2 separate regions of the Homo sapiens genome follow, and region 1 is linked to region 2. Evidence: fine-mapped expression QTL. A gene starts in region 2. The other region holds a variant in brackets. All regions are shown on one strand. Distances are from middle to middle. Region 1 has its middle 440 kb from the start of LINC01249. Region 2 holds the start of SOX11 (SRY-box transcription factor 11).

The links. PIP is the estimated chance that this variant, and not a neighbour inherited with it, causes the effect.
Region 1: its variant is the best candidate, but not a certain one, in a credible set for the expression of SOX11 in atrial appendage (GTEx, PIP 0.51).

What each region holds. Positions count from the first base shown.
Region 1 is chr2:5,085,408-5,101,327 of GRCh38, reverse strand. No RefSeq gene overlaps it. Among named protein-coding and RNA genes, the nearest start is that of LINC01249, 440 kb to the right of the region's middle. The variant C/A (reference allele first, on the strand shown) is at 7,561.
Region 2 is chr2:5,682,834-5,698,753 of GRCh38, reverse strand. SOX11 (SRY-box transcription factor 11) reads right to left here and starts at 6,370. Exons shown (of 1, transcript NM_003108.4): 1 at 1-6,370. The coding sequence starts at 6,032. The coding sequence ends at 4,707. LINC01248 (long intergenic non-protein coding RNA 1248) reads left to right here and starts at 7,636. Exons shown (of 5, transcript NR_110580.1): 1 at 7,636-7,779; 2 at 14,215-14,328. LOC124908052 (a long non-coding RNA gene) reads left to right here and starts at 7,791. Exons shown (of 2, transcript XR_007088653.1): 1 at 7,791-9,677; 2 at 10,999-11,126. RefSeq lists silencers at 1,598-1,767, 2,058-2,147.

The DNA of each region.
Region 1 (15,920 bases), 600 kb after region 2:
GGCTGCTGATGCAAGCTGTGGAGTCCAAAGGCCAGAGGACCTGAAGTTTAAATGACCAATGGCAGGAGAAAAGCCTAGTTCTAAGAGAGAGAGAGAGAGAGAGAGAATTTGCTTTCCTCTGACCTTTTGTTTTATCTGGGCCTCAGCTGATTGGATGGTGAGCACTCACATTAAGTGAGCGCGGATTTTTCTCACTCAGTCCACTGATTCCAATGTTAATCTTTTCCACAAATGCCATTTCAGAAATAATGCTCTACCAGCTATCTAGGGATCCCTTACTCCATTCAAGTTGACACCTAATATTAACCATCACGGAAGAGAATGTTTTCAATTGATAAACATAAAGGGTATCTATGAAGAAAGTAACATTACACTCAATGGTTAAAGGCTGGATAATTTCTTCCTAAGATCTGGAATAATAAAAGTATATCCACTGTTGACACTTCCATTCAGCAGTAAACTGTATATTCTAGTCAAGGTAATTAGTCAAGATCAAGAAATAAGACATCCACAAGGAAGAGAGAGGAGTAAAACTATTTGTATTTGTAGATGGCATAATTCTGCACATAAAAAATCTGAAAGAATTCACACACAAAGAAATTAATAAATGAATTCACCAAGGTTGAAGGATACAGGATCAAAATGAAAGTTAATTGTGTTTTTGTACAATTTCAATAAGCACTGTGGGGATTAAGTTAATATAACAATTTCATTGACAATAGCTTCAAAAATAATGAAATACTTAAAGGGATTATAACGGAAAAAGGGCAAAACATATTCTAAAAACTATAAAATGTAATTGAAAGAAATTGAGGACTATGTATATAATTAGAAAAGCTTCCTATGTTCATTGATCACAAGACTTAACATTGTTAAGATGGTATTATTCCTCAAACTGAGCTACAGATTCAATAAAATTCTCATCAGTATCTCAGCTGACTTCTTTATAAAAATTGACAAGCTGATTCTAAAGCTCATATGGGATTTCAGGGAAATTAGCCAAAACAATCTTTACAAAGGAAAACCAAATAGAAGTAGTTATATTTCACGATTTCAAACTACTTCAAATCTGTAGTAACTAAGTTAGGGTGAAACTGACAAAAAGTCAATCACATAGAACAATGGAATAAAACTGAAAGCACCCCAGAAGAAAATCTATGTATTTATGGTCAAATGATAATCCATAAGAGTACAAAATTATTCAATGAGGAAAGAATAGCCTTTTCAAAAAATGGTGCTGGAACAACTGTATAGCAACATGCAAGTGGATGAAGCTGGACATTTACTTCACACCACATACAAAAATTGACCGAAAATGGATCAGACCCAAATGTAAAAGCAAAATTTGTAAAATTCTTATGATAAAACAGAGTTAAATAAATCTTTACGACCTTAATTTTACCAAAGGAGTCCTACATATGACACCAAAAAGCACAGCATCAAAATAAATATATAAGTTGCATTTTATCAAATATTTTTTTTCAAAGTGATGGCTTTCAAAGCAGCATTAAGACAGTAAAACATCAACCTGAAGAATGGTAGAAAACATTTTTAAAGCATCTATCTGCAAGAGACTCATTTCCAGAATATATAAAGAACTCTTACAATTCAATAATAAAGAAAAAGAACCTAATTTTTTAAAAAAAAAAAAAAAACATGAGCAAAGGACCTGAACAGACACTTCAGCATGTAAAACATACAAATGGACAACAAACACATGACAATGTGCTTGACATCATCAGTCATCAGGGAAATGCAAGTCAAAATCACAATAAAATACTACATTACATCTTGTAGGATGGCTAAAATCAAAAAGTCACCTAACAACAAGTATTGGCAAAGGAGGAAAAATCGTAACACTAGCACAAGGCTGGTGGGAATGTGAAATGGTGCAGCCACTCTGGAAAACAATCGGACACACCCTCAAATGATGAAGCAGAGAATTTCCATATAACCCAGCAGTTCCACCGTGAGGTTCATGCCCAAGTAAAATGAAAACACGTCCACATAAGAGCTTATACACAAATCACAATAGCCTAGAAATGGAAACAACCCAAATGTCCACCAACTATTAGATTGGTGCAAAAGTAATCATGGATTTTGCCATTACTTTCAATGGCAAACTGCAATTACTTTTGCACCAACCTAATAACAAATGTATAGGAAGATATGTTATACCCATACAATGAAATATTATGTAGCCATAAAAAGGAATTAAGTACTGACATATGCCACAACAGGGATGAACTTTGAAAACATTATGCTGAGAGAAACCTGTCATGAAGCACAAAATATTGTATGATTTCATCTATATCAAATGGCCTGAACAGGCCAAACTATAGAGACAGAAATCAGATTAGTGATGGCTTAGAGCTGGGGATGAGGTGAGAGACAGGAGGATAGAGGAGCAAAAGCTAAAAACTACAGAGTTGCTTTTTGAGATGATGAAAATGTTTTAAAATTGAGGGTTGTGATGACTGCAGCACATTGGCATTTTAGCCATGGCTACTGTCACTGAAGAGGACATAGTTGGTACACTTTGAGGACACAGCTGTCAAGGAAGAAAGCTGTGCATCCCTGCATGGGCTTTCCAACAGTCATGAAATGGAAATGCCTCAACTCCTTGAAAAAAATAAAGGTTAAGGAGAAGTTAAGATGTCAATATTACTGAATTTAAGAAATGTCTTATCTATGATTTAGGATACTTTTTGTTTTCTTGCAGTCTATATACTAAGACTATAAAAATGTGAGTGAAATATTTTAGAATGTTTTATGGAGCCAAACATACAGTTATGTTCATGGCAGAATGACAGAGTGAAAACTAATTCCAGAAAGTTCTGGAAGAGAAGCAAACAACTGTGTCCAAAGGAAGTCAGGAATCCCATGGGCTCACATCAGAAAACACCCTATGATGGTGATTAAGGGCAAGATCTTTGGAATTCCTCAGACGCACTTGGATCTAGGTCTCTCATTAACAAGAAAGGAGTTTCTGAGCAAGTAACAATTTCTGAGGGTGTGTTGCTTCATCTGTAAAGTAGGGATAATATCTATTTAGATAGGTTATTGGAAAAATTAAATTAGATCTTGTGCATAAAGCACTCTATTAGGTTCAATTAGGAAACTGAAGATATAACTGATATAACTGAAAATATAGCAAATATTTTAGTCGAAAGTATATAACATATGAGAGACAACATAGTTTTAAGAGAGAACCTAAGCAGGATTTTATATAAAATTTAGTAGGGAGCTGAAAAAAACAAAAACAAAACAAAACAACAACACTGAGACATGAAGGTAGCAACTACAGGAAGTAGCTTGCCCTACTCTTTAGGACTGGCAGAACTAGAAAGACAGATGTGTACTATTGGAACTTAGAAGCCTCAAGGGGGGTGCATGGAGCTGAAACATAAGACGCCCAAGGAAAGGCTGTTGCTGGGCTCTATGAGAAAACAGGATTACTCTCTGGTTCTCTGAGTACTGAAGAGCTGCTAAATGTCTTTACCTGCTGCTGCAGACAGAAGCATGGGGTGATTTTTGGACGTTGTTTGTAGGACCAGGAAAAAGACAGGGAAAAAGCAGAAAAAAACAAGTCCTTACCTACTTCTGCCTGCCTTGCTCTTGTAAGCCTTTTGCCAAAACTGAATTTAGAGCCAGCTGTCACAGCAGAAAAATTATCTGCAGAGCCTAAATCCAGCATCACAAAGAAAAGGAGCAAAGATTGGGTTTGGAGCTGGGAGATAGGAGCTTAATCACCATCACAAGCAGTTTATAAAAAATTAGAATTGATAAGCCTTAATTATTATTGCAAATATCATCATGACCAGTGGATAATCTGGAAGTGAAAGACCTCTAGAATCAACTCCCTTAATAAAGAACATCAGATTTTGAGGACTCCTAATGCCTAAGGGATTTTTACTATTTCATATGCCATGCATTCGTAACAGACTTGTCAAACATTAATGTCTCTTTTAATTATTTTACATTAAGAAGCCTAGAAAGGGCTGGGCATGGTGGCTTATGCCTGTAATGCCAGCACTTTGAGAGGTCAAGGCAAGTGGATCACTTGAGGCCAGAAATTTGAGACCAGCCTGGCCAACATGGTGAAAACCCCTCTCTACTAAAAATACAAAAATTGGCCCAGCATGGTGGTGTGCACCTGTAGTCCCAGCTACTCGGGAGATGAGGCACAAATCGCTTGAACCCAGGAGGTGGATGTTGCAGTGAACTGAGGTCACACCATTGCACTAAAGCCTGGGTGACAGAGCGAGACCCTGTTTCAAAATAATAATAATTTTAAAAGTCTAGTAAGAATGTTGTAGAGGCTGTGCCTGTTCAATAGGTCAGTAATCTTTATGGCACTATAAATGCTTTACAAAGAGGAAATATTTCTAATCTATGCATCGGAAATTATACAATTTCATAATTTAAAAATTGATCAAACTATTTATTCTGATTTGGGATTTAGGATTTAGAAAATAAGTTCAGTATACTCACGACACTGGACTTACTGTCATTTTCATCGGAGTCCTGATGTTAGAGTGGGTAGCTAGGCAGACATGAGCAAGGCAGGAGGGGGCCCCCTCCGAGGAATATAAGGCAACCATCAGGTGATGGTCATGAGGTTGTTAAACTGTTTCTCTAAAATAGTAATTGCTCACATCTGGAGCTAGGGAAAGGTAGTCTTCCAATATATAGAAAACACCTGAAGCTGGTGATGAGCCGCTTCTCAGTAAGATTCAAGGAGTTGGGTGAGTAGGCTTGAGCATGCGCACTAAGAGGCAAAATGGCGGAGTTTAACTGGTATAATGACCCTCCTCTAGGAACACTTGACTAGTAAGAAATGCCTCAAATGACCATGTGCACAGCTCCAGTAAACAGACTGCATTTGTGGCCCCTCCTAAGTGCTTGCAGGCCACTGCTCACTGTGGGCAGCCCACTCCAGTGAAAAATCAAAGGAGAGATGCAAAAAACCCTGAAAGTATGTCAACTTATAAAACCCCAAGTCAAAGGACTAAATGGTGCACTTGAATCTCTTAAGTTGCCTGCTTGGACCTGTTCCAAGTGTACTTTATTTCCTTTTGTTCCTGCTCTAAAACTTTTTAATAAACTTTCACTCCAACCCTAAAACTTGCCTCAGTCTCTCGCTCTGGCTTATGCCACTCAGATGAATTCTTTCCCATGAGGCAGCAGGAATTGAGTCGCTGAGACCTGTACAGATTCACCACTGCTAACACTGATATTTCCTCTGTAATGATGATTTCAAGATCTAAAACATAATTTACTTTAAGGCCCCTTGTGGCAGACATGGACTTATGAGGCTCCAATTTCCCTTCAAGAACTTGTTGATCAGCTATAAGAAGTGCAAGTAGCTGATGGCCTTCGGCAATTGCACCTTTGGGATCCACGGCACTGTTTGAACTGAGGTCATGCTTCTCCCGGCAGCTCCCAGCCGGTGACTAGGCAAGACAGCAGTACAAGAAAACATCTGCCCATGCAGGACTCATTAAAAGCCACGCTTTATGCCGGAGCTCCTTTTGGGGCTGGGTTAGAAATGCTCAGAGCTTCACTGCACTCTGAGGCTCCTTCTACCCAAGCATCCTCTGCCTTTACCCTCTATTTGTCCAAGTCAGGTCTGTATTATGCTCTGAAGGCTCTCCTTGACAATACTGCTTGCTCTTTCTTTATCCTCAATGGGAAGTACCCCAAATAATTTTTTTCCTCTAACACCATCTTGGCAACTGTTCCTTTTTGTTTTGATATCCTTAATTCTAACCTGTTTTTCCTTTTTTTTAAAAAAAATAGCTTTATGGAGATACAATTCCCATAAGATAAAATTTACCAATGTAAACTGTACAATTCAGTGGATTTTAGGGTATTCACAGATACGTGCAAATAGCACCACCATCAATTCTGGAATATCATTATTCCCTTTCTGCCCAACCTCAGTCCTGAATAACTACTAATCCACTTTCTGCCTCTATGGATATCTTTATTCTGGACATTTCAAATAAATGGAATCATATAACATGTGGTCTTTTGTGTCAAGCTTCTTTCATTTAGTATAACGTTTTTAAGGTTCATCCATATGCTAACATGTATCAGTACTCTATATTTTTTATAGCCAAGTCATATTCCATTGTATGGTCATTTCATATTTTGTTTATCCACTCACCTGTTGATGGACATCTGAGTTATTTTTACCTTTTGGATATTATGAATGATACTGCCATAAACATTCATGTGCAGGCATTTTTGTGGACATATCCTTTCATTTCAGTTGGGCACATACCTAGGAGTGGAATTGCTGAATCAGATGGAAACCATTAATTACTATGGGAACTGACAGACTGTTTTCCAAAGGATTTTGCCCCATTTTACATTTCTACCAGCAATGCACAAGTGTTCCAATTTCTCCACATTCTTGCCAACATTTATCTGACTTTTTGATTCTAGCCATCCTAGTGGGAGTGTAGTTGTATTTCATTATGGTTTTGACTTACGTTTCTATGATGATTAATGATGCCAAGCATATTTTCTTGTGCTAATTGACCATTTGTGTCTCTTCTTTAGAGATTGTGACTTCTTGGATGAATCTGTTTCTGAGGCCAGTTTTTTGTTTTTTTGAGACAGGGTCTCACTCTGTCACCTAGACTGGAGTGCGGTGGCACAATGTTGGCTCACTGCAACCTCTGCCTCCTGGGCTCAAGGAATTTTTCTGCCTCAGCCTCCTGATTAGCTGGGATTACCAGCACACACCACCACATCCAGCTAATTTTTTTTTTTTATATTGTTAGTAGAGACGAGGTTTCACCATGTTGGCCAGGCTGTGAAGTCAGTTTTTGATATTTGTTCTGACACTAAGAGGACTCTACCCAGCTGTTCTAATCTACAGTTGATCTTTGAACAACACGGGTATGAGCTATGAGCATCTACTTACATGTGGTTTTTCTTCTGCCTCTGCCACCCATGAGCCAGTAAAACCAATGCCTCTGTTACTGATGGAAGGTATCTGAGTTACTGATGGCGAATCCTCGTGGGTCTGCAGCAGCCTCAATTCTTGCCGCCTCAGAAGAAAAAATTTGACTGAGGGGCATAAGGCAACAAAAGAGACCAAGGCAGGTTTCAGAGCAGGAGTGGAAGTTTATTTTAAAAGGCTTTAAAATGGGAAAGAAAATAAGGAAAGTACGCTTGGAAGAGACTCAAGGGGGCACCGAGGTCAAGTGCAGTGTTTAACCTTCATCCTAGGACTTTAAACACTGGGCCCTTTCCCATGGTTTTTCCCTTAGGGTGGGCTGCCCACATGCACAGTAAGGGCCCCCCTTACCCTGGGGAGGTGAGCACGTGCAGTATGTTTACGAAGTTGTGCACATGCCTCTCTGAGGCTTTCTTCCCTTTTCCAGGGGAGTGTCTTCAGAAGGTTATACTCTGCCGTTTTGTCTCTTAATGCGCCCGCTCAGGAAGCTGTGTCTCCCTGGTGCCTGCATTCAATTAACATTTTAGTGCAGCACTTGTGGATTTTCCGAAAATGGCCTCTCCCTGGCACCGGCTGCCAATTTATCA[C/A]TTTTAAAGAGGCAATGTGATAAGTACCAAACCATCACCGGGTATTTCTAGTGGGTGGGGAAAGAGCCCTCTCCTGCCCTGCTCATACTTGTCTAACTACGTGTAACACCTCCTTTTCCTCCTCCTCTCAGCCTACTCAGTGTGAAGGCGATAAAGGTGAAGACCTTTATGATGATCCACTTCCACTTAATGAGTAGTAAAAATATTTTCTCCTTCTTATGATTTACTTAATAATATTTTCCTTTCTCTAGCTTACTCCATTGTAAGAATACAATGTGTAATACCTATAAGCTACAAAATCTATGTTAGTCAACTGTTTATGTTATCAGTAAGACTTCCTGTCAACAGTAAGCTATTAATAGTTAGTTTTGGGGGCAGCCAAACATTATACACAGGTTTTTAACTGCATAGGGGGTCAGGGCTTCTAACTTCCATGTTGTTCAAGGGTCAAGTGTACATCTGTCTTCTGAAAGCTAGCTGGATTATGGTCTAACCTGTACCATTATGTGACTCATAAATTCCTTTCAGATTTTTCACCACAACTCCACTCTTCTTGAGAAAGCCCTTGGTCTTGACTTTCTCCATATTTTATTGCCAATGAAGTCAATGCCTTTGGGAAGGGATCAGGAGCTGTTTTAAATCTGTTTCTCCCCCAGGCATATCTCTTAACCAGGACTCTGGAGCCTGGGTGGGGACAATGACAAGTCTCTCTTTGAGTGACACCACACTCTAGTAGGTGGTGCTGGGTGGGCTAGTGAAGCAGCCAGCTGAGGTCCTCTCAGTTTATGACTGCAGGCCTAGGATCACCACCTCATTAGTTGGGTCAGGGTTATGAGGAAGCTGGTGTCATCAGCCTGCCATGCTTTGAGTGGGCATTGCAGTCACCCAAGTCTCATCCCCAACACAAACTAGCTGGAGGTGAGATGAGAAATACTGATGTTCTGGGAAGACAGCCTCCAGCCGAGAGCCAGGGAAAGGGACCCCAGTGCTTGGCAGCACTGGAAGTCTGGAGTAGAGAGTCCACCTCACTGAGCTGTAGCCATCTTCATTCAAAATAAGACAGACTTTGTTCTTCCTTGCTGATATTTGTAAATGTTCTTGAATAGATGTTTCTTTATGTGCTAATTGTACTTAGTACCATTTCCAGGGACCTTTAATTTTTTTTTATAGTTTTCAGAAATTTATCTGGTCAGTGGAGCTCTACACCATCAAGGTATCATAACTCTCTTTTTATTGAAAAAATAACATATGCAAACAGGACTAATTTGGAAACCAACCCACAAATAAACATTGGATGACATAATATCTACCACTCAGAATTATAATTATATTTGAACATGTGTCATGGATGTAAAGTGATTATTGTAGTGCCTAACAAATGATGCCTATAACACATAGTTCCAAAGATAATGTGGGAGCTAAGAATGGTGAGTAATTTTTTTAGTAACAGCCAAATAAATGGCGAGAATGAGCTTCCTCTAGAAACTTGTGATGGAGCGGGCACAGGAAAAATAAGATCTGTAGTTTAACTGAAGCACTCCACTGCTTGTGAGGAACAAAAGCAGCATGGGATGTGGTCCCTGCCCTCCAGGGAACTGCAAATTAGTTTAGAAGACAAGATGCTGACTTTCAAAATATGTACTTAATCTGTGAGGCCACTTAGAAATCATCTAATACAGTGCTCTTAATATAAATGAGGAAATGAAGGCTCAGGGATTCACTTTCTAAGATTTCTACATGCTATGGTAGAAGTGATCTAATCTAGAATACACACCTAATTTGACCTAGTGATCATTCTGTAAATAACTATATTGTGAAGCTGTCTGTAATTGGTGTTCCTGAGAAGCAATTACTGCTGGAATTCAGATGTAGGGGCCATCACTACAGTTGCTGTGATTAGAGAAGGCTGCAGCTTAGAGCTGAAGGTTGGTTTATCCCAGCTGTGAGGCAGTGGGGCTCAATATGAATGTAAAATAGAATTAATGAGCAGCTTTCAAAAACCCCACCGACCATACCTCACCACAGGTGTCAGTATTTTTTAATGTGCTCCAATCGATTCTAATGTATAGCCCAGGTTCAGAAGCATCATTGTAATGGAAAGATAGGAGCGATCAGCAACAGTTAGAGGAAAGTATTTCCAATAAGGAAGATTGATTACCTAGTGCAAGGAAGTAGAAAATTGTGTAATGTTTTGAAAAGACTGAAAACATAGATATTTACAAATATATTTATTGTTAAATGTATCAATCCCACCTGTGTACCTATCTGGATTTATTTTACAGTGGTCAAAAGCCACTAACTGTTTGGGGAGGAAGCAATAGGACTGAACCCTATTGCTTAGAAGATTAAAATGGGAAGACACAGGGAGCGTCCTCCAAAAGCAGGTGTCATGTTTCTCCAGTTCCTGCAGTGACTTGTAGGTATCTGTATCCCAGGGTACAGTCTTGTAGTTTGGTCCTTCCAGCTGGAAGGATTTTAGGCACTCTGAAGGATTTACCTTTGTTCTCAGGTCTGGAGTCAGTCTTGTCCATTTTGGATTGAGGACAATTAAGGCAACAGGATGACAGCTAATATCTATAGTAGACCCACAAAGTGCATGCACATTATCTCGTCTAGCTCACTGAGTTAGTGCTACGCAAGGAGTCAATGGGTATTACATTCTCAGCATTGGCCAACCTGATTACCAGTTTTCTTGATGTGATGTGCCCAGGGGTGAAGCCCATGAAAATCATGCTGTCTTTCTCTTTCTCGATTCTTCTAGAATCACTTCCTATGATACATATCATTGTGCATTGTGGGTTACATGCATATTTTGTCCTAAATTGGATATCATATTATACCTTTTTTGAATTTCTATTATCTGATACATAATAATACCCCACAAATATTTGTGTTAGTACCACCACTTTATAGCTGGAGGAGCTGAAGCTCAGGGAAATAGCTCGCCTGGAGTGACAGACTGATTAAGGCATAGCTGGTACTGGAGCCCAGGCTGACTACGGATGTCTGCACTTACGAGCTGCCTCCACTTGGATGTGTTTTCAACCCTAGACTGGTGAGACTGTGCTGGCATGTCTGGCCTGTTTTCCTAAAGCCTGGTACACCTGAGAGCTAATAGGCTCCAAATAAGTGTGTATTGATTGAATAAGATCTCCTGCCAGCCTTGCTTACTGCCCTAGAACTATGAAGAAAGTGCGGCCAGCCTACCAAGGAGACATCAGCTAAAGCGGAGATATGTTCTAACGGCCCATGGGCCGATTTAATCCATGTGAAGAATCGGGACCATGACAATTAGGTGCCATGAAGCAGATTCTGGTTTGTTTCAAAAAAATTTTTTTTCTGCTACTGGACCCTCCAAATTGAAATTGACTTCATAATGACGAAGAAGATTCTGTGTCACTGGGGCCTTTAGAAAAGGAGGGCAATCTTCCCTTTGGTCTGCACATTATTGAAGATACTCATGCATCAGTTTTCAATATGGATTGCACGCAATATTCATAAGGGAGATTTTACTAACACCTGGGCTCTGCTTCAAACCAATAAAAACCAACCCTCAGCAGGGAGAACTAGACATCAGTAAAGTGTCCAAGTTTACCTGGCAATTCCAGTGTGCAGCCAGGATTGAGAATGACTGAACTGGGGTGAGACAAGAGTGAGGAATCATTAATAATGATTGTTATGTGGGAATATGTAAAAAATATGGACAGACTCTCAGGTTTACTAGTTTATGATTCCTGGGGGAAGGAAATATAATAGTTTATGATTCCTGGATGAAGGAGTTTAAGAAGGAGGAAGAAGAAGCTTCTATTTTAAAAAGTCTCCAAGGTGATTCAGATGGGCCTTCCTAGCCCTAGGATGTAGATCTGCATCCCAGAACATTCAGACTAGAGCTCAGCGCTTGTGTGACGTCTCTTGACTGTCCCAGGTGTGTGGGTCACCCAATCTGGACCCTGCCCAGAACACAGGGCCCCCTCTAGCAAAAATATTTAGGTACCAGTTCCATCCATGCCCGGCTTATATCATTGTCTTATTTCCCCGAAATTGGAATATACCTCAATCCAAATTCTGCTCGTGCTGGCTTCTGGGTTCCTCTCAGTGTCTTCCAGCCTGCAGGGCCCAGGTTGGTCTGGTCTATGGCGGCCTAGCACAGTGCTGTAAAACAGACATCTTTCTCCTGGTATCTGCTTTGACAGCAAAAGCTTTTTACTCCCTGTGTGTTTAATTTTAATTTGCTTTGTAGTATCAAGGCATTCTGGGCACCTGTCAGGTCAGGCTATAAAAGGAGATCTGCAAAAGATTAAGTTATTCAATGCCGGGTCTTTTTGAACTGCAGCATACAGGGAGGGAGTCTCATTTTTATAATCTCTTTCTCCAAGATGCAAAGGCCTAAAAGCTGGCCTTTCTCTTCAAAACATGAATGCTTTAACCTAAGAGAGGAAGGGTCTTTCTTTCATGTCAGTTAGAGTCAGCCATCAGGCACAGACACACACAAATAGAAACGCATCAATTCATCATCAGTGGCTCTTGATTGTATACAGCCAGGCCCTGGGCCCTTTTCCATCACAGGTAATTACAGGTGAGCTACATGACAGAGCCTCAGTCAGTGTCATCATTTCTAGATTATGCTGTTTTTTAAATCCTAGTAACATTTGTTACAATATATATGAGAAAAGTTAATCATGCTTATAAACCAGTTTATAGATATAGATGTATTTTGTAGATGTACATAATTTCAAAAATAGTCAATATACACAGACTAGTAGACACTTCAAAATGATGAATTGATAATTTCTTGCTTATCTTGGTATATTGAGCAATTACCTAACATCAAAGAATTTTGGCTGTGTGTTAAATAAGCTCATTTACATTTTTATTTTTCATTCTTTTGTTCTCTCTTTCAGTGCCTCCACTACACAGAGGTTCAAAATCACTAAATGCAAACACCAAGACATTAGATCTGGAATGTAGTCTTCAAAACTGGTAGCCCCCGAGATGCTGGGCACAGGCATTGAGCGCCAAGAATAACCACATTAATTCAGACCTCTCCTTTAGTCCTCGAAGTCTAATTTAAATGCTGATGATGTTTGTACATTGGCTTAAAAAAAAAAATCTCTTTACAGAAAACTCTTCACTGTTTTCACACAGGACTCTGCTTTAGATTTTCTCAAATCTATCACTAACCACCCATAGAGTTTTTCAATACTGGTAAAGTTAAATGTTGGTATTTTTACAAGGTAACTCATGCAGGGATAAGCTTTGGTGTCATTTAATCTGTATCTGTAGCTGAACACTGACTGGATCTTTTTTGTAGCTTTTGAGTAGCCTTCTGGAGATTAATCTGGGGATGGATTGCTCCTTGGTGTAGCCTCAGAGTCCAATCAGAGTCAGCCCATTTGGTGGTTTAGATAACCAGGTCTACTAGGCTCTTTAATCTTATTCTAGGAGATATGACTGGCGTTTAGGATCTGCTTTCCGCAATGGAAGACTTGGCAGCATCCTTTTGTTGAAGGATGATATCAGTCCACCTTCTAGTATCACCTCAGTTCTGTTCATGGTTTGTTGCTTATGTAACTCTAAAGTATGAAACAGTGGTTGGCACTTAGGAGATGACCTGCAAGCATTTTTACTTGTTAAATAAATGCTATTGACATGTAACCATAGTTAAAGTATTGTATACTCAAATTTTTCAGATCTTTTTCTTACCAAATAAAGGTAACTCTGAGGTGACAAATATATTAATTAGTTTGACTCTGAAAATCATTGCACAAGGTATACTTATATCAAAACACGTTTTACATCTTAAGTATATAAAATTTTTATTTGTCAATCATACCTCAATAAAGCTGACAAAAATTAGTTAATTAATTAATGCTATTTATTGCCAATTCTTCCTCCAGCCAAATATTCATTCATGTGGAGTTCAATGGAAAGTTTATCTTGGACACTGATGTGGTTTGGCTCTGTGTCACCACCTAAATCTCACGTTGAATTTTAATCCCCCAGTGTTGGAGGTGGGGTCTGGTGGGAGGTGATTGGATCATGGGGGTGGTTTCTAATGGTTTAACACCATCCCCCTAGTGCTGCCTCATGATAGAGTTCTCATGAGATCTGGTTGTTTAAAAGTGTGTAGTACTTCCCCCTTCATGCCTTCGTGCTACCTCTCTCTCCCTCATTCTTTCTCTCTCTCCTGTTGCCATGTAAAGATGTGCTTGCTTCCCTTTCCAGTTGTGGCCTTCCGCCATGATTGTAAGTTTCCTGAAGCCTTCCAGCCATGCTTTCTATACAGCCTGTGAAACTGGAGTCAATTAAATCTCCTTTTGTTATAAATTACCCAGTCTCGGGTAGTTCCTTATAGCAATCTGAGAACAGACTAATACAGACACATTGCTGTCTCCTTGGACACAATACATCTTAAGCCAAAGCATGTTTTCTTCTTTATGGGCTTTTTTGGTCTAAAGCACACTTAACCTCTTAATCCATATATATATATGTGTGTGTATATATATATATGTGTGTGTGTGTGTGTGTGTGTGTGTGTGTATATATATATATGTAATATAGGAAGCCCTAAATGTATTTTAAGGTTCTGATGAAAAGTCATCCTTCTTATAAAGTTTTCCCAGTTCCCCTTCCACAAACCTATTATTATCACTCTCCTTTCTGTGTTAAAGCACACTGTTCATTCCACTGGGAGCTTTACCACATTATAGTTTTGTATTAATGGTACTAATAATTATCATTTACTGAGTGTTTTTGTGACTGGCATGAATGGTTATATTATTACAGATTGGCTATTCCAAGCACTATTTTTATATGAACTTTCAAACCTCCAAGCCTCCAATCACTCCCCTACTGCCTGTTGACTAAGGTCTGGTGACTTCCCCTGAAGACCCTGCCAAAAGGCCACCCCATTGTCCTCCTCATGAAGGGGCCAGACAGGGCCTCCTCAGTTGGGCTGTTTGTCTTTCTTGTCTCCCCTGGCTTCTTGCTAACTCTCCCCCAGAATCCTGAATATGACATAGTAAGTGTCTTACCACTGCCTTAACTCAGGTGCATGGGGTCAGAAATGGACCCTGGATCTGCGTGGAGATACTCTCAGATTCTGTTCCTTCCCTGTGCTCCATGCTTCGACATAGCTTATGGTTCAGTTCCACGCCTGGGTTCTCCATTCTTTACAGTGTGTGTTACTCTAGGGTCTACACAGTGCTTTCATCATGACTTTATTCTTCAAAACAAGGCTATAAAGATGAGTAGAGGGTACTGTCGCCTATTGTTGGTGGACAGGAAGATAAAGGGATGCTGTGTAAGGTGCCCAATTCAAGCATAGAAAATGCTCAAGTTGAATTCACGTCTATTTCTTTTCCTGTCCCACCATGCTGCCTCCAGTTCTGGAGACTGCTTGTTTTGCAGAGCCTTGACTTGGTTCTCAATAAACAATCTTAAGTCCTGGAAATTCTGTCTCCAATATAGTCTCCAACGTTCTGAAATTATTGTGGCAGGTCTGGACCTGATGCCTTCCTCTTATGTGGATTTTTTTTTCAGACACTGGCAATATTGCAAGTATAGTTATCATTCAATCTCAACAAAGTGTCTTCCAAATATAAAAATCTAAATAAAAACTGTCTCAAGAGATTTGAAAATACGATAATCATTCTGGTGATTGATATGATTGTTCACAGCTGAAACTCATCAGTTCTCTCATGTCTACTTCAAATAAATGTATATAATTTGGGGCAAGTCAGCTAAATTTGCTTAGCATCAGAAACTTCAAAATTGGTACAATAAAAATAGCTAATACTTGTACTAGGGACTCCTTCATGTAGCATCTTGTTTGATCCTCACAACTTTGTGAGGCAAGTACTATTATTACTTTCATTTAATGATGAGAAAACAGAGACACACAGAGCTTAAAAGTGTCCAGGGCCACATAAGTAAAATGTGCTGAATTCAGGAACTGGATGCATGAGCAATGCTCATGAATACTGTGTTGAATTTTCCTCTAATAAAACTGCCCCGCCATCAAGTATGGTTCTACTTATTAAAATGAGATGCCGCTTGTTAAAATTTAGCCTATATAATTGCTCATTACGGTGAATATGAGTTTGCATATACAGTGAGTCCTTCCTTATGTCATCAATAGGTTCCTGGAAACTGGGGTTTTAAGCACCTTGTATAAGGTGCTTAAAAGTTTTAAGCACAATGTAAAGGAAGTCAGTATTACTGTAGGCTAATTGATATGAACATGACTTAAATTCGTATGCATATTTCTGGTCACAAAAACATCATCAAACTTCAAAATAAAGACCCTAAAACACTGCTAATATTGAACATTGGAATAAATGAGAGTTATGTATACATTT
Region 2 (15,920 bases):
TGCATATTTAAATCACTTCCCCTTGATTAACATTAAAAAGAAACATCTCTGCCCAAAAGAGTTGTAATGATTTCTTTCTCTAGCTAAAGGATAATCATTCTACAAATAATTTGCCCAGTGTCTGTAGTCATTCATAACATACACAATATTTGCAAAGCACAGTTTAAGTACACTGCCTTTTATTAGCATTTTTTTTTTTTTTAAATAAAAGGGATGCGTATCAGAGTGTAAGAACTGGAAATTACTTCCACAGTTTAAAGAATTAATAAGAGAATGCTGGTTCAATTTCTTAAAGATGGAAAGCTTACCAAAATGCCATCAGAGTCTGTGAACTACTTATAATAAACAGCAGGATCCCCACTGGCTAGGCTGCCGTGCACACAGCACCCACCCGCCACCCCCAGGTTACCATTTTAAGATATTCTGTCAATGCTTAGTTAAAAATAAGACTTACTTAAGAGACCAACAAAAAAAAATCAATTAAACTTTTATTGAAGACTATCCAGTGGCAAGAATACCATGTGTATTATACTATGTTTTAGACACTCAATAAAGAATTCATTAAGATGATTCTCACAACGCACTCATCAAAACAGCCTTAAATATTGTTAAAAAGCGCATTGAAGCGCCTGTCCTGAGTTCTAACAGGTTTTAAATTTAGATTGCCAAACAATTACTTTTATTTTTGTATCAAGTTAGGCCACATGGCTTTAAAAAAAAAAAATCTTGACTATCTCTTCCCATTCTGAAGCCAAATTATTACTTTACTAATTTACTTAAAGTTTCCACCTCACCACAGAAAATGTCCAAGATTCATCTATGATTAAAACAGAAAAGACATGCCAAGTTTTCAGGCTTTCAAAATACATAGATCAGCCTATCAATGGGTTTACGTTGCCAACAAGTTTCGGAACTGCAGCAGAGGGCTGCCACATAAAATCACCAGCACGGAGCACGTGTCAATTGTAAACCGCTGGTTCAATTATCCGTGGCTAAAATAAATGTACCACCAATGGCTGCATTAGTCTACATGTTGAGGGGGTGTGGGGTAAGGTAAACAACTCCAGAAATCCAGTTCTATATTGAGAACCTGGTTAACGCCATCAGCCCCTTCTTTTCCCAAATGTACTACTGAAATCTGATGGTTTATCGAAAGGAAAAAGCCACAGAAAAGAAACCTGTCCATCTGCAGCAAAAGCTTGCTGGCTTCGCATCCCAGGGGTGGGGGCTGGGGAGGAGGCTCGCCCAGAGCGGGAGGCTGGGGGGCGGGTGAGAGGCCCGAGTTCTCAGTCGGGGGGCCGGGGGAGGGGTGGTGGTAAGATCGAGTAAGGCAAAAGCAAGCGGGAGGGGAGGCGGGAAGGGCGCCGGGGCCCCTCTGGCCTAGCAGCTGCAGTTACTGTGCGGACGCTTCCATTCGGTCTCGCCAAATCTCAGTAAAAATGGAAGGCCAAACCTCGGTCAATCATCTCAGTAGGTGAAAGAGTCGTGGTGATTTTGCAGTGAGTTTCAATCAGCCACTGAAAACCTCCTCCGCTGCGGGCGCCGCAGCTCGGGAGGCTGAACTCCGGGGCTGGCACGCTGGGCCCCGAGCGGCCTCCCAGCCTCCCTCCTCCCAGACCCAGCAGAAAAGAGGCGGCGGATGCTCGGAAGGGGGGCGGGAGCCCGGGGCGCGCGTGCCCGGCCGCGATCGCCTGCTCGGGCCTGCCGCGAGGGCTCGGGGACACAGGCCGGTCAGGAAAAATGGTGGGGAGCGAGGGGGTGTGGACAGGCAAACGGGGTTCAGCGAGCGGGGAGCGCCAGCGGGATGGGTCGCGCCCGCGCCGCCGCCGGAGCCCCCAGGAGGCTCCCGGAGAACAATCAAGATGCGGATCCACCTTCGTTGCGGCGGCCCCGGGGAGCTGATTCCGGGGCAGCCCCTGAGCCGGCGCGCGGGGAGGGCGTGGTGAGGGCCCGGGGTGCGCGGGTGCGGCAGCCGCCTGCTCCCCGGGTTTGCTTTCTTCCTCTCACCCCGCAGCCCCGAGGCTTCCCTCCCCGGCCCGCGGGCCCGGGAAGCCAGCGCTGGTGTCTCCGCGCGCCTCAAGGGCCCGCGGCGGGGCGCGCCCAGGAGCACGCGGTGGCGAGGCAAGAAGAGCCAGGCACGGGGACCCGGAGCGTCAGGGCTCTGCCTTGCGCGTCCCGGACTACCGCCCGGGTGCCCTCTGCCACCCCCTGCTCCCCACGCCCTCACCAGTGGTTCGGCCCTCCCAGGCACCCCGGAGACCGCGACTCGGATCGCACAGAGGCCATGCCATGTTCCTCGGGGTGCCCTCGGCCGGCCTGCCGCGTCTTCCCCCGACTCCCGCCTCCCTCCCGCTCGTAGCCTGGGTCCCGCCGCGCCCCGCGCCCCCTGCGGCCCCGCACCGTCCTCCTTCCCTCCGACAGCTCCACGGCCCCGGGGGACAGAAGGAAACAGACACCGACCACTTCTCTCCTTTCCTCTTCCCCTTCCCCCTTCACCGCTAGAGGTCAAACACTGCGGCGGCGTTCTCCGCCAACAACCACCTCTGAGCACACGCGAAGATGCAGCGTTAAAAATAAAGAACAGAAAAAATTCAAATCTGGAAACGGCTGTCCCCACCCTTTGAGAGGCGGGGATAGAAGTGCCCCGAGCGCTCGCTGCCAAAGGCGGCTGTCACCGCGAGGCTCAGCGGGGACGCGGCCCGCCGCAGAGAACACACAAGCCCCAGCGAGCAGGACCCCGACCAAGGGAGCTGGCAACCCAGGCCCCTCCATCCGCCCCTCCCCGGCCAGCTCCCGAGCCTCCGCGCAGCCCGCCCGCCAGGATGGGTGGGGAGAAGAGGCAGGGAGTGGAGGAGGAGGTGAGAAAGGAAATGGGGAGCTGGAGATGGAAAGGGAGGGCAGAGAGAAAGAACACCCTTCCCCTGTCTTTCACAACTAGCGGAAGAGGAAAAAGAAATCAGCCTGCTAATTGAACACTTTTCAGCCTAACCCCCTAAATGTAGAATTCTCTCCTGCCACCTCCCCTCATCCGCGCACACAACAGCCTCACCACCGAATGCTCTGCGACAACAGGACCTCCAGTTTGACTTCCATAGAGACTATTGGCGATGCGAGTTTCTATCAGTTCCAGCTGATTTATTAAAATTGTCAAGATACAGACTTCCAGCACAAAAAAAAAAAAAAAAAAACAGGCAATGATGTCGACAGTGCATTGAGTCTGCTTTGCCACCATTTGCTACAAAATATGCAGATGGTCTGTACTTTATTTAGATTATATTGCACAAAATGAGAAACTTTTTAAACTATGTGCCTTTTTTTTTTCTTTTTTGCTAAAAATCGAGAATCCAGTTTCAAACCTTCCATCTGGGGCCCCATCCACATCACAGCGTATGAGATACATAAAGTCCTACTATAGTACAGTACATATACAATCTTTAAACTAAGATAACAGCTCTGAGGTCTATATCACCATTTTCAATAAATCTTTACCTACAAATATTGAACAAATCTCTACTATAGCTGTACAAAAAAAAGTTTGCTTTTTTTTTTTAAACCACAAGGCCTTTAGATGCAAGGATTATTTTAAAATTTTAATCCTTTTTAAACCAGGACATAACGTACCAACATACTTGCATGCTAAAAAACAGAGGAAAAAAAAGAAATCAAAAGGGAAGAAGTGCCTGAAAGTCTTACTGAAAAAACACAGCAAGAATGTTCCCTTTTCACTGTACAAAAATACGCCTGAAAATATATTAATTTTTAAAAAAGACTGAGGTCTGTTATGTATCAAAAATGTTTCAATACCTTTTGTACTGAGGTCTAGGCTGTCTGGTATTCAATCAAGGAGGTATAAGGGAACAAGTTACAAAAAAAAAGTTGGCAAGTAGAAATCACATTTGTAAAACCATAAACAATTTGATCTGAAAAGTAAACTCTGATCTTAAGTCAGTTCACAGTTTTTTTTTTTGTAAGCGTTTGTACAGTCTGCATTTTTTCAAGCTCCCTGCAGTTTTGTTAAGAATCGGATGCATAGAAGACATCAGTTTTCTCCCTCCAAAAAAAAAAAAAAAAAAAAAAAAAAAAAAAATTAAATTAACAAAAGTTGCAATGGTCCCTTTTTTTGTTAAAAAAAAATCACCAGTTCTTTAAGTTCTCTTAAGAAAAAAAAATATCTCCACCAACTCCCTAGAGTAACAGTTGTGCTGCCAAAAGGGTCCTCTGCAGACGTCTTCCAGACTTCAAAGACCGACAAGCTTCAAACAGCGCCTTCCGGAGCGGGTCCTACCTCCCCTCCCCCGCCCCGCCCCCTCTGCCTTTGTTGCAATCACGAATTTCAGGAAAAAGAAATAGTAATTACAAAAACACATTTTTTGGGAAAATAATCACAACTCCAGACTAGGTATGCAACTACCTTGAGACACGATAAAGGAAGGGAGGGGGGACAAAAAAAGGACAGGAAAAATGTTTAAAAACTACTCATTTCACTTTAACTCCACCAAAATTTTCATCATGTTTTCCAATTTCTTTGCGTCACGACATCTTATCAATATCATCAGCATCTTCTTCTCTCCCCTCCACCCTACCACCGCCACCATCAACACCACCATCATCATCATCATTATCATCATCATCATCACCACTACAACTTCCTCCCAAGGAACCCAGCTCTGCACCCTCCGAGAGAAAGAGCGAGCAGCGGGCGCCTTTCAATATGTGAACACCAGGTCGGAGAAGTTCGCCTCCAGCCAGTCCCCCGCGATCATCTCGCTCAGCTCCGGCGTGCAGTAGTCGGGGAACTCGAAGTGGGAGCCCAGGCTGCCCTCGCTGAACGAATCCAAATCCTTATCCACCAGCGACAGGGACAGGTTCCCGGCCGCCGCGCCGCCCCCCAGCTGCTGCTCGCTGGCGCTGTGCGCGCTTTGAGAGAAATTCAAGCTCAGGTCGAACATCAGGTCGTCGGCGTCCTCGCCGCTGCTGCCGCTGCTGCTGCCGCTGCTGCTGGACGAGGAGGTGGACACCGAGCGCGAGGACGCGGGCGACAGCGCGGGCTGCGCGAGCGGCGGCGGGTGCTGCTTGGTGATGTTCTTGAAGCTGTAGTAGAGGCGGCTGCCGCCCCCGGCGCCCGAGGTCGCGCCGGCCCGCACCTCGTCGTAGAGGCTCGCTCCCTCGGGGGACTCCGCCGAGCTGCTCAGCGTAGGGCTGGCGGGCACTTTGGCGACGTTGTAGCGTCTCAGCAGCTGCGACGGCTGCTGCCCCGGCGGCTGCAGGAGCTGCTGGTGCGGTGGTTCCTCGTCCTCCTCGTCCGGCTCCTGTTTGATCTGCAGCTGCAGCTCGTCGTCGTCGTCGTCGTCGTCGTCGTCCTCATCCAGAAACACGCACTTGACCGTCTTGCCCGCGCCGCCGCCGCCCGAGCCGCTCACGCGCAGGCTGCCCAGCACGTAGTCGTCGCCCGCGCCCCCGTAGTCCCCGGACTGGGCCGCCTTGCCCGCGCCCGCCTTGGCGCCCGCGGCCGCGGGGGCCTTGAGCTTGCCGCATTTCTTGCTGGAGCCCTTGGAGGTCTTGGCACCGCCCGCGCCTCCGCCCGCGCTCCCGCCGCCGCCGCCGGCCGCGCTCTTCTCTGGGCTCTGGCTGGCGCTGGGCTTGGCCGAGGGGTCCATTTTGGGCTTTTTCCGGGGCCGGTACTTGTAGTCGGGGTAGTCGGCCATGTGCTTGAGCCGCAGCCGCTCCGCCTCCCGGATGAACGGGATCTTCTCGCTGTCCTTCAGCATTTTCCAGCGCTTGCCCAGCCTCTTGGAGATCTCGGCGTTGTGCATGTCCGGAGACTGCTCCATGATCTTCCTGCGTTCGATCTTGGACCATACCATGAACGCGTTCATCGGCCGCTTGATGTGGCCCGACGCCGTCTTGCACCAGTCTGGGTCGCTCTCGTCCAGGGCCACCGGGCTGCAAGCCATGAATTCGCCCTCCTCCGTGTCCAGCGCCTCCCGGGGCAGGTTGCTCTCCGCTTCCAAGCTCTCCGCCTGCTGCACCATGATCCGCTGCAGGGCTGGACGCTCCAACCCGGGCCGCTGGGTCTCGTGCGGAGGTCCCCCTCCCCCTCCCACCCCTCCACCTTCCTGGGCAAGTTGCAAAGTCCTCGGCACCCCGCTTTCGCGGCTCCCCCCCTCCCCCCCGCCCCCCCTTCCAGGCTGCACACAGCGGCTGTGGTGGCTTCGGCGACGACGGCCGCCGGCGCGGTGGGAGCTGCGGTCGCGACAGGAGAGGCGGTGGCGACGGCGGTCGAGGCAGCCCGGGACCCCTCTCTCCGGCTCGTGGCTCCTACCGCAAGCGCCGGACCCCGAGCTCTCCCAGGCGCGCGCGCTCCTTCTGCAAAAAGTTGAGGTCTCTCTCTCAACTAGTTATCAGGGTGTCATATGGGTGACATCACTCCCCCAGCTAGCCAATGGCTGGGGGCCGGCTCCGCCCATCTTCCTTTATTAACTCGGAGGCCCCGCCCCTCCACCCCGCCCTCCGGGCTGCTTTGCAAAGATGGGGGTGGGGGGAGAGGAGGCATGTCTAGAAATATGTTATTTTTAAAAAATCCGCGTGTGTGCACAGATGCGCCTGTTCCCGGGATGCTCGGAAGCGGCGCGCGGCACCACGGGGAGCGGGCGGCCCGGGGCGAACCGGGATGGTTCGGGCGCCGGCGCTAACCGAGGACCGGGTCCCGGGAGAGGCCCCGCGCGCCTTTGTGCCCAGTCCCCGGGAGGCCCGACGGCGACAGCGGACGGCGCGCGCTCACTCCCCGGGTGCACACACTCGGGCACGCGCCCAGCCTGAGACGGCGGCCTCCGCCCGGCTCGCGGTCAGCCGCGCCCGGCCTGCCCCGGGGTGGGCGCAGCTGCTCCCCGGCGAGCCCCTCGCGGGGCTCGGCCGCTCCCCCGGGTCGCCGCCCCGAGCCCGCCCGGTAGCCCCGCGGCGGCCCTGGCCGACGGAAGGTGGCGCTTGAAGACAGCAACCTTCCCGGCACGTGGGCTCTGCTCTCCTTTTCCCTTTCTCCCTTTTTGTAAGGCAAAGAAATCAATTTAAAGCTCGAGAGGCGGTGAGCTCCCTCCCCCGTTTTGCATTTTTCTGTTTTGTCCTTTTTCTCCGTCTGTTTTCCCTCCTCGGTGGTGTTTGGGGACGCGGCTGTGCGGGTTGGGCTGCGCCGCGCCCCCGCGCGCCCCGCCCCGGGCGGGGGCCGGAGTAACGGTCTGCGGGGCCCTCGGGTTCAAGCTGGCCACTCCCAGGGCTGGCTCCGGAGCGGGCTCTGGGTCCCGCAGGCTCCAGCAAGCCCGCGCCCCGCCCGGCGTCCCTGCGAGGGGCCCGGCGCCCTCCTTCCCTTCTCCCTCTGCTCCCCGCCCCTCCTCTCCCCGCCCCGTCCTCTCCCCGCCCCTCCGCCGCTCCTTTCTCCTTCCCAGGCCTCCTCTTCCTCTTTGTCCTTCCCCCATCCTCGGTCGCCAGCGCTTCTCCGGCAGCCTCGTCCTGAAATCGTGCGATTGTGAGCTAGAAGCCTTCTGGGTCACTCATAAACCAAAGAGAAAATAAGGTGCACTCGAGTTTCCCGTCTAAATATTTTCCCTGGAGATGGAAAGGTGCGCTGGCGGCCGGGGAGCCGCGACCTGGGGCGCGCTGGGCCTCGCAGAGCAGCCGCGGACCCCGGCGATCGTGCCGTGTTCGTCTCCTTTGTGTTTCTTTATTGAGTCCCTACTACCTCTACGGATATTCTGGGGGCAATTAAAGAAAATCACCGCTTCATAGGTATGGTCTGTCGCCACCCTCGCCTTCTCCACACCCCCCAGCACTGGGTATCTGGGAACTTTGAGCAGTTCCTAAGACACTGCCCGGATCCCTTCACCAGAGAAATCAGCCGTGTAGGACTGGGAAAATTATCCGAATCTGCTTCCTTTCAGGTGCCCTCCTGCAATTAATACTACATTTCTTAAGTATTGGATCTTCTCTGAGGATTCTAATATCATAAAATAATACCGTGTTTTACACAGATCATGATTTGAAAAAATTACCGCCATTGCGATAAGCCATTCCCGCCCCCGTCCCCCACTTCCCCGACTCATCCTAAAGAAAAACACTGCATCGAATACTTGGAATATTCAGACCAACTTAAATCTTGATAATGCTGGCAATTTATTCTTTCCAGGGCCATAGGAACCAAAAGAATTTACAGTCATTCATACTGGGTGACTTAAAGTCTGGAGATGTATAAAATCCAAGGCAGTGTGTGAAAACTCATCTTCACTCCCGCACGGCGAGCACTAGGTCTTGTTTTTCTCTTACAGCTCACACGTTTTTCAGCTATTGGGAACACCACCGGAGGGAGGGTGGGGTGGAGCACAAGGTGAACCTACACCCACCTCCCCACAACTGCAGGACAAATCCACACTCTAGAGAAAAGGATTGAAATATTTCAGCTCAGCTTCATTATTTGCTTGCAAAGTGTGAGGGCACCTACCATTTGGGCCTCGGAAAGAGAATGCATTTGAAAATCTTTGGCAAATTCCATATTGATTTGCTATCTTTACGCTATAGCAAAAATCATGCTTAGCTTTAAAATGAGAATGATCTGAATATAGTAGGAGTGAAAAATAATAGATTTTATTCTCATAGCGCTGCGATCTTTTTAGAGGAAATAAAAGTTAAAATCTGCTCTTTCGAACAAGAAATATAATTTCTGTTCAAGGCAACATGAGCCGTTTGTTGGAGAAGATAAAGCAAAGATTGGGATTGCTAAAGCAGGCACTGAAGGCGGCACAGGCGGGTGCTACAGCTGAATCCCCCCTGTCATGTAGGAGAGGCCAGGCAATTTTCACAAGAGATTAACTAGATTGCTATTTTGTAGCATGGACTCACCCCACATACTTAATGTTGTTAGACGTAGTCGAGTGAGGAATGAAAAAAATGATAATCTGTATACTTTATTTTTGCTCCCTAAGGGAAAATTTTTAAATAAGTATAGCATTTAAAAAAAAATATGGGAACATGTTTGAGAGTACGCATGCTTCTTACAGGAATAATAGTTACTTCTGAAAACAGATGTTTGCGCCATTAACAGTAACCAACTATTTAGAGAAATTTTAGGCTACCAAATAGAAAATATAGCCTTTAATAATGCACCTCTTGAAAACCTAATTTAGTAAAATGGAAATAGGTCTACTGTTTTTTAAGCCACTGAATGTATATCATAATTAGGATCATTGGTTATCTTTTTAGAGCCAATATTCACTCATTTTTGTGTGTGTCTGTCTATATACTTATTTATAAGCAAGATATGTAGTTTGTTTGTTAACCATAAACATTGTTGGATACATAATGTTCAGAATCTTAAGAGTCACATCTGATTAGAGGCACAAATGACTATTTTTATGGTGATTTTTACCTTTTCATAATTCCATCTTTACAAAGAAAATGTCACGTAAAAGGACTATTACATAAAGAGATGAGATATTTCACGATATCTCTCAAAATTATAACACAGCCAGAGTAAGAAGTGTCCCTTTTTCTTAGGAAAGAAGCATTTTTCTAAGCAAATAATATGCTAAAAATATCACTGGGTAAATATTTGACTTATCTGATGGATTGACCACCATTTTTAGAAGTATTGCAACCACATGCATTCCCCATCTCTGAAATGAAGTTATAAGGTAGGATCCTTTCCTTTTTTCTCCCTTTACCTATTCTCCTGAAATGAGTTCACTCCTTATTGTTAGCTGTATCTATTTATCTCAGCTTCAGCCTTAAATCTTGAATTTGGATCTGGTTATATTCTGTCTACTGGACATTCCTTCTTATTCCTTCTTAAGTGTTCCTCAGACCTGGTAATGAGTATAGATCGAACAATCCTACCTTGAAAACACACACACACACACACACACACACACACACAATGAACCAGTGGATGCTGTTACCCTGTTTGGCTCATCAGAACATGTTTCAATAGCTAAAATAATGTTGTTAAGCTTTTCACTCATTTATTCTCTGAATTGACCACTGCAGAGTGTGATCCATGAAAGCCAGAGCAGTTGGGCAGTACAGCACAGGGCAGCGGCTTGGAAATTTATTTTGATCATGACCTATTTTATAAAACACCTTTTTACATCATGACCCAGTACTCATGCTATACACATATAAAGCAGAAACCAAAGCGTCAAAAATCAGTATCTCTCTTTTATGTGCAATTCATACTCTTTTTTATTCTATTCCATTCCATTCCATTTCTGTAAATGCTAGTTAAAACCCACTATTAATGAGGCACCACTGAAGTTTGAAAAACACTGGCTTAGGTGTTCAGAGTTACGGCTCAGAAGCGTTCTGCCCTGGATTGAAAATTCTGGTTCCACTATCTTTTCTTTTTCCCGCGTGGCTCTCATCATGGAGCGCTTGACTTTTAGTTATCAATGCCCAGATAATTCCACAAACGTACTGCCTCCAAAATTCACGTCTTTTGAAATTATTCATATGAGATATGTATTCTATTTTTTTAAATAGACTTTATTTTCTAGAGCAGTTTGAGGTTCACAGCAAACATGAATGGAAAATGCAGAGCCTTCCACATAGTGTCTATCCCCACACATACACAACCACCCCCACTCGGTGGTACATGTGTTACGATCAGTGCATCCACAATGACACATCATAATCATCCAACATGCGTAGTCCACATTAGGCTCACTCTTGGTGTTGTACATTCTGTGGATTTGGATAAATGTATAATGGCAGGTATCCATCATTATAGTGTCATGCAGATTATTTTCATGGCCCTAATCATCTGGCCTCCACCCACCTATTCATCCTTCACCCCTCCAAGCCCTTGGCAACAACTGATTATTTTACTATGGCAATAGTTTTGCCTTTTCCAGAATGTCAAATATATGGAATCATACAGTATGTAGCTTTTTCAGATTGGCTTCCTTAACTTAACAATATGCATTTTATGTTCTTCCATGTCTTTTTATGACTTCATAGCTCATTTCTTTTTGGCAATACATAACATTCCATTGTCTGAGTATACCACAGTTTATCCATCCTCCTACAGAAGGACATCATGGCTGCTTCCATGTTTTGGCAATGATGAATAAAATCTGTTACAAGCATCCTTGTGCAGCTTTGTGTGTAGATGTAAGTGTTCAACTTGCTTGGGTAAATATCAAAGAGTGATACTGCTCTATCGTGTGGTAAGAGGTTGTATAATTTCATAAGAAACTTTCAAACTGTCTTCCAAAGTGGCTGTCCCATTTTGCATTCCCAACAGCAACGAATGAGAGTTTCTACTATTCTACATCTTCGTCAGAATTTGCTGTTGTCACTATTTTAGATTGTAGCCATTCTACTCGGTCTGAAGTGCTATCTCATTTTTGTTGTAATTTACATTTCCCTAGGCATATGAGATGGACTGTCTTTCCAAATATTTACTTGCCCTCAGTATATCTTCTTTAGTGATATATCTCTTCAGGTTTTTGGCCCATTTTTTTTAAATCAGGTTTTTCATGTGCTTATTGTGAAGCTTTAAGACTTCTTTGTATATTTTGGGTAACAGTCTTTTATCAGACATGTCTTTTGCAAATAACTTCCCCTAGTCTGTGGCTTGTTTTCTCATTTTCTTGATAGTGTCTTTTACACAAGTTATTTAACTTATCCTGTGCCTTCGTTTTCCAGTCTATAAAATAGGATACCAGTAACCATTCCATCATGTGCGTGCACGCGCACACACACACACACACTCATGTGTGCAGAGACACAGTCCAGGTCCTGCTTGATTTGTTAGAATTGCTATAATGATTAAATACATATGAAGTGCTTAGAACAGTGCTGCGCACAGTAGAACGTTTACAAATGTAGTCTTTATTATTTTAATATTTCTTCTTCTGTGCCTGAAAGGGTTCCTGGCATACCGTAACTATTGTGTAAGTTATGAAGGGATTTTCATATTTGCTCACATACCCCAGTAAGCTCAGTCAATTCTCCTACCCGAGTCACTCCTGAGTTCACTTCCTCCTGCATGTTTTGACCATCAGTGTGTATGTTTCAGTTTTCCTCTGGGCTTTACACATTTTTTAGTAATGGACACCAAACTGATGTCCCTGTTTCCACTCTGCAGACAGACTATTCATTCCAACATGCAACAGGGACCATGGGACTTGCCAGCGTCATGCTCAGGATGCCCTTCACCATTAGGACAAAATCCACGTCCCTTTGCAATGCAAGCAAGGCATGACTCTTCTCGTTTTGCCTCTGTAGTTTCATCTTTGTCACAATTAAGGAAAACACAGAGTATCAGCAGGGCAGGATAGCACAGGGCAGGGGCTTCAAACTTATTTTGACTATGATCTGACATATGAAATGGATTTTTACATCATGACCCAGCACACAAATGAACACACACACACACACACAGATGTACACACACAGAATATACACATGCAACATTGGAGCTAACACCAAGAGGGATGTCTGTGGTTTCAGATCACACTGTTTCACGTGTTCACACTGTTCCTGTTAACCAGGCATTGGCTAGAACTTCCTATCTTTTACAGTTTAAACAAACCTTATTTTTATTAAAAATATATTTATTCAACCATTTTTTAGTGGGAGGAATATGCTCTAAAAAAGACATTTAACTAGAAAACTCAGGGAATTTTTAAATGAAGTTAAATAATTTCCCCCAAAACAGTTATTTTTTTTGTTGAGCAAGCAGCACTATCGTCCAGTGTGGCCTGCTCTCTTAGCTCCAAAAAAGAGAGTGGGGGGCTTTAGGGGCTGGGGTGGGGAGATGGCTCCTGCCCTCTCCCATCTAAATCAAAGACAGAGGCGGAGCCTGCACCAGTGCTGGAGAGCAAGTCCTAGAGTTGCAGTCTACACATGAAGGGAGAGGGGCCAGTGTCTCCTGGAGACATTGCTCCCTTTCTATCAGTATCTTTGTCTTATACACCCAAGAAGACATGTATGGTTCCAAATGTGTGATTGTTAAGTGTGTATGTGTGTGTTTGGAAGTGTAATATAAAAAGAAATGAATAGTCAATTTTGAAAGCACAATTTTAAAATTTGCCAAATCTGGTTTCTTCAAAACATGGCTATTATCCTGATTTGTTTGTCTTAATCACTTCTTAGCTAGAGAAAACATCCATGTGAATAGCTATGAATGTGTCATTGTTTTCGATGATACAGACAAGAGGGGATGGGGAGAGCTGGTAACTCAGGCAAACACGTGTCCGGTAGATTTCTGGGATTTGATAAGCACAAGTGCAGGAGGAGGGTGTCTGTGGATAGTCCTCACCGGGAACAGGGAATCATCGGCTTTGGCAGGTGCAGCGTCTCCCCTCCACCTTGATAGGCTGAGGGAAAGCCCTAGCCAGGACTCTTTCTAAATCACCAAGCTGTGTGGCCAGGTTGCTTTACCCACTCCCCGCGACCCATGAGCCCTGTAATCAACTACATTTTGCTGTAATTGACTCTTGAACTTAGGTGTCTGCTGTTGTTTTTCTTTCTGGCCCTCGATGCATCAATAGCTCTTTCTGTACTCTGTCTCTGTCTGTCAGCTTTGAAAACACTTACATTACTTTTGTTATTCCAAATAAAGTAAGGTATAGGCAGAGATGTGTGAAGCACAGGTAACCATTAAATTCTAAGTAATCATAACATGAACAAGAAATACAGTGACCTTTCCTTGGAGAGGGCATTCACTAAAAATTCTACCAATTTGTGGTCATCATTAGGGTAGCTTTTAGCTGCTGTGCAAAATCGAAGGGCGTTTGCAGACAAGGGGGAGGAGGGGAGGATGGGTGGCAAGAGGACCCAGGCTTCTACTAAGAGGTGAGTAGTGCCTTAGAGAGACACACCTGTGAGGGAAGAGGGGTCTGAGCCAGGGAGACTGTCTCCTGCCCCCATCCTAACATAAATCAGCCACGTGATCTTAGGAACAGGGGTTGATCACCTTGGCCCTTAAAATCCTCACCTCTAGCACGAACATTTTGGACTAGGTGACTTCCAAGGTCACTTCTGCGCTGGACCTTACGTAGCTTTTCCAGGACGAAAAATGTCACTGCTACAGAATCGTAAACTAGGGAAAATTATTTTGGTTTCATTCTCTTAAGTCTGTGGGTTTATTATATGTTAAAGTATAGTTATTTAGTTGTGACTTTGGTACTTTGTGGTATTTATTGTTTTCTCTTCCTCCATTTGAAGGCAGCACATATTTCCCATAGAAATGTGGAATGTAAGAAAGGCACATAAAGCAATCCAAGTTGCCTGCAGATATCCACAGCCTACTTCAGTCTCAGTAATGCTCTTTTAACCTGGGTGAGTATCAGATTCCTCATTATTTTTTTCTCCCACAGCAGCGGAGAGTCCATGTTACAATAAAAATTAACATGATTTTCCTTTGGTCCCGAGTACCATTTGGATCTGTGCTTGGGTGTGTAAATGGTGCACTTGACAGGCTGGATGAAGTGCAGTGTGATCAGGACACAGCTCTGTGATTCTCTTCCCACCAGCCTAGAGATCCCCCCTCAGGTCTAGCTTGGGCTGACTGTGAATTAGAGACAAGGTGGCAGTTCTGGTGTTTTACACTCCTGCCTCCCCGTCCTGCCTTCTGGCTGCTGGGGAACCAGGAGATGGGAAGGGCTCAGAAGAGAAAGGGGCAAAGTCTATCTTCATGTAGCCGATGCTGTGTGCTTCTCACTTGGCTGCTGAATGCCCGTTGACATGCCAGGATTCCAGCTGCTGGGCCTCCTTGATGGGTTATTATAAGAATGAACCCATCGCAGCAGGGCCACCTTCTCTGTTGTGGGGAATTGCGTCTCCAGATGATCCTTGAGGTTCCATTTTGGGTGCCCTTCCTAGGTGTGAACACCCTTGCTTGACGCCCTTGATATAGTCACTTACAACAAGGCCTGCTCTGACAAGGTCATTCCAGGGTGGCTCTGTTCCACTTCCTTCCATCACATGCCTCTGCTTCAGGGACATATCCGGAGTGTTTGCACCACCCGACTGTGGGAGAGGCCACTGCTCGCTCTCCTTCCAGGGCAGCTCTGGCCAGGGCCCAGCCTCCGTGTGTTCAGGCTAGAGTTTTGCTCCAGTCTCTGTGTGTCCCAATCTCCTCTGCACTCCCCACCAAATTGAAAGCCCACAGCTTGGCGCTGATGAGTCTTGACTCCCACACCAAGTCCCCAAGAGTTGGTGAGGGGACAATGAAAGGGTTGGAGGACCAGAGGGCAGAGAATCTAGCCAGAGAAGATTCTTCTGAGGTCTGGAATTGAAGGGAATTTTCCCTGATAGGTTTGGGACTTGTTTGGGATTAGTAATCCTTTTTTTTTTCTCTTCTGATCTCCCCCTTATGGAATGGAAATGTCTATTCGATGCCTGTTCCATCATTGTATTTTAAAAGTAGATATGCAGTCTAGTCTCATAGATCCACAGCTGAAAGGGAATTTTGCTGAAGGATGAATCAAAGCCTGAGTTGCACTCATATTTGATGAGATATTTAGATGAGGTTTTGGACTTAGGCTTCACGCTGGACTGCATTCAGGCTTTTGGAGATGTTGGGATGTGGTAAATATATTTTTCATATAAGAAGGACATGAATCTTTAAGGGTCAGATAATGGGCTATTATGAGTTGAATTATGTTTCTCAAAATAAATACTTTGAGGTGTAATTCCTGAATACCTCAGAGTGGGAGCTTATTTGGAGAGAGGTCCTTTGCAGATGATCAATTTAAAACCAGGCCAGTGGGGTGGGTCCAAACACAATATAAAAATGGGAAATGGGCCTGGTGCAGTGGTGCACACCTGTAATCCCAGCACTTTGGGAGGCTGAGGTGGGAGGATCACTTGAGCTCAGGAGTTAGAGACCAGCCTGGGCAGCATTGTGAAAACCCATTTCTACTAAAAAT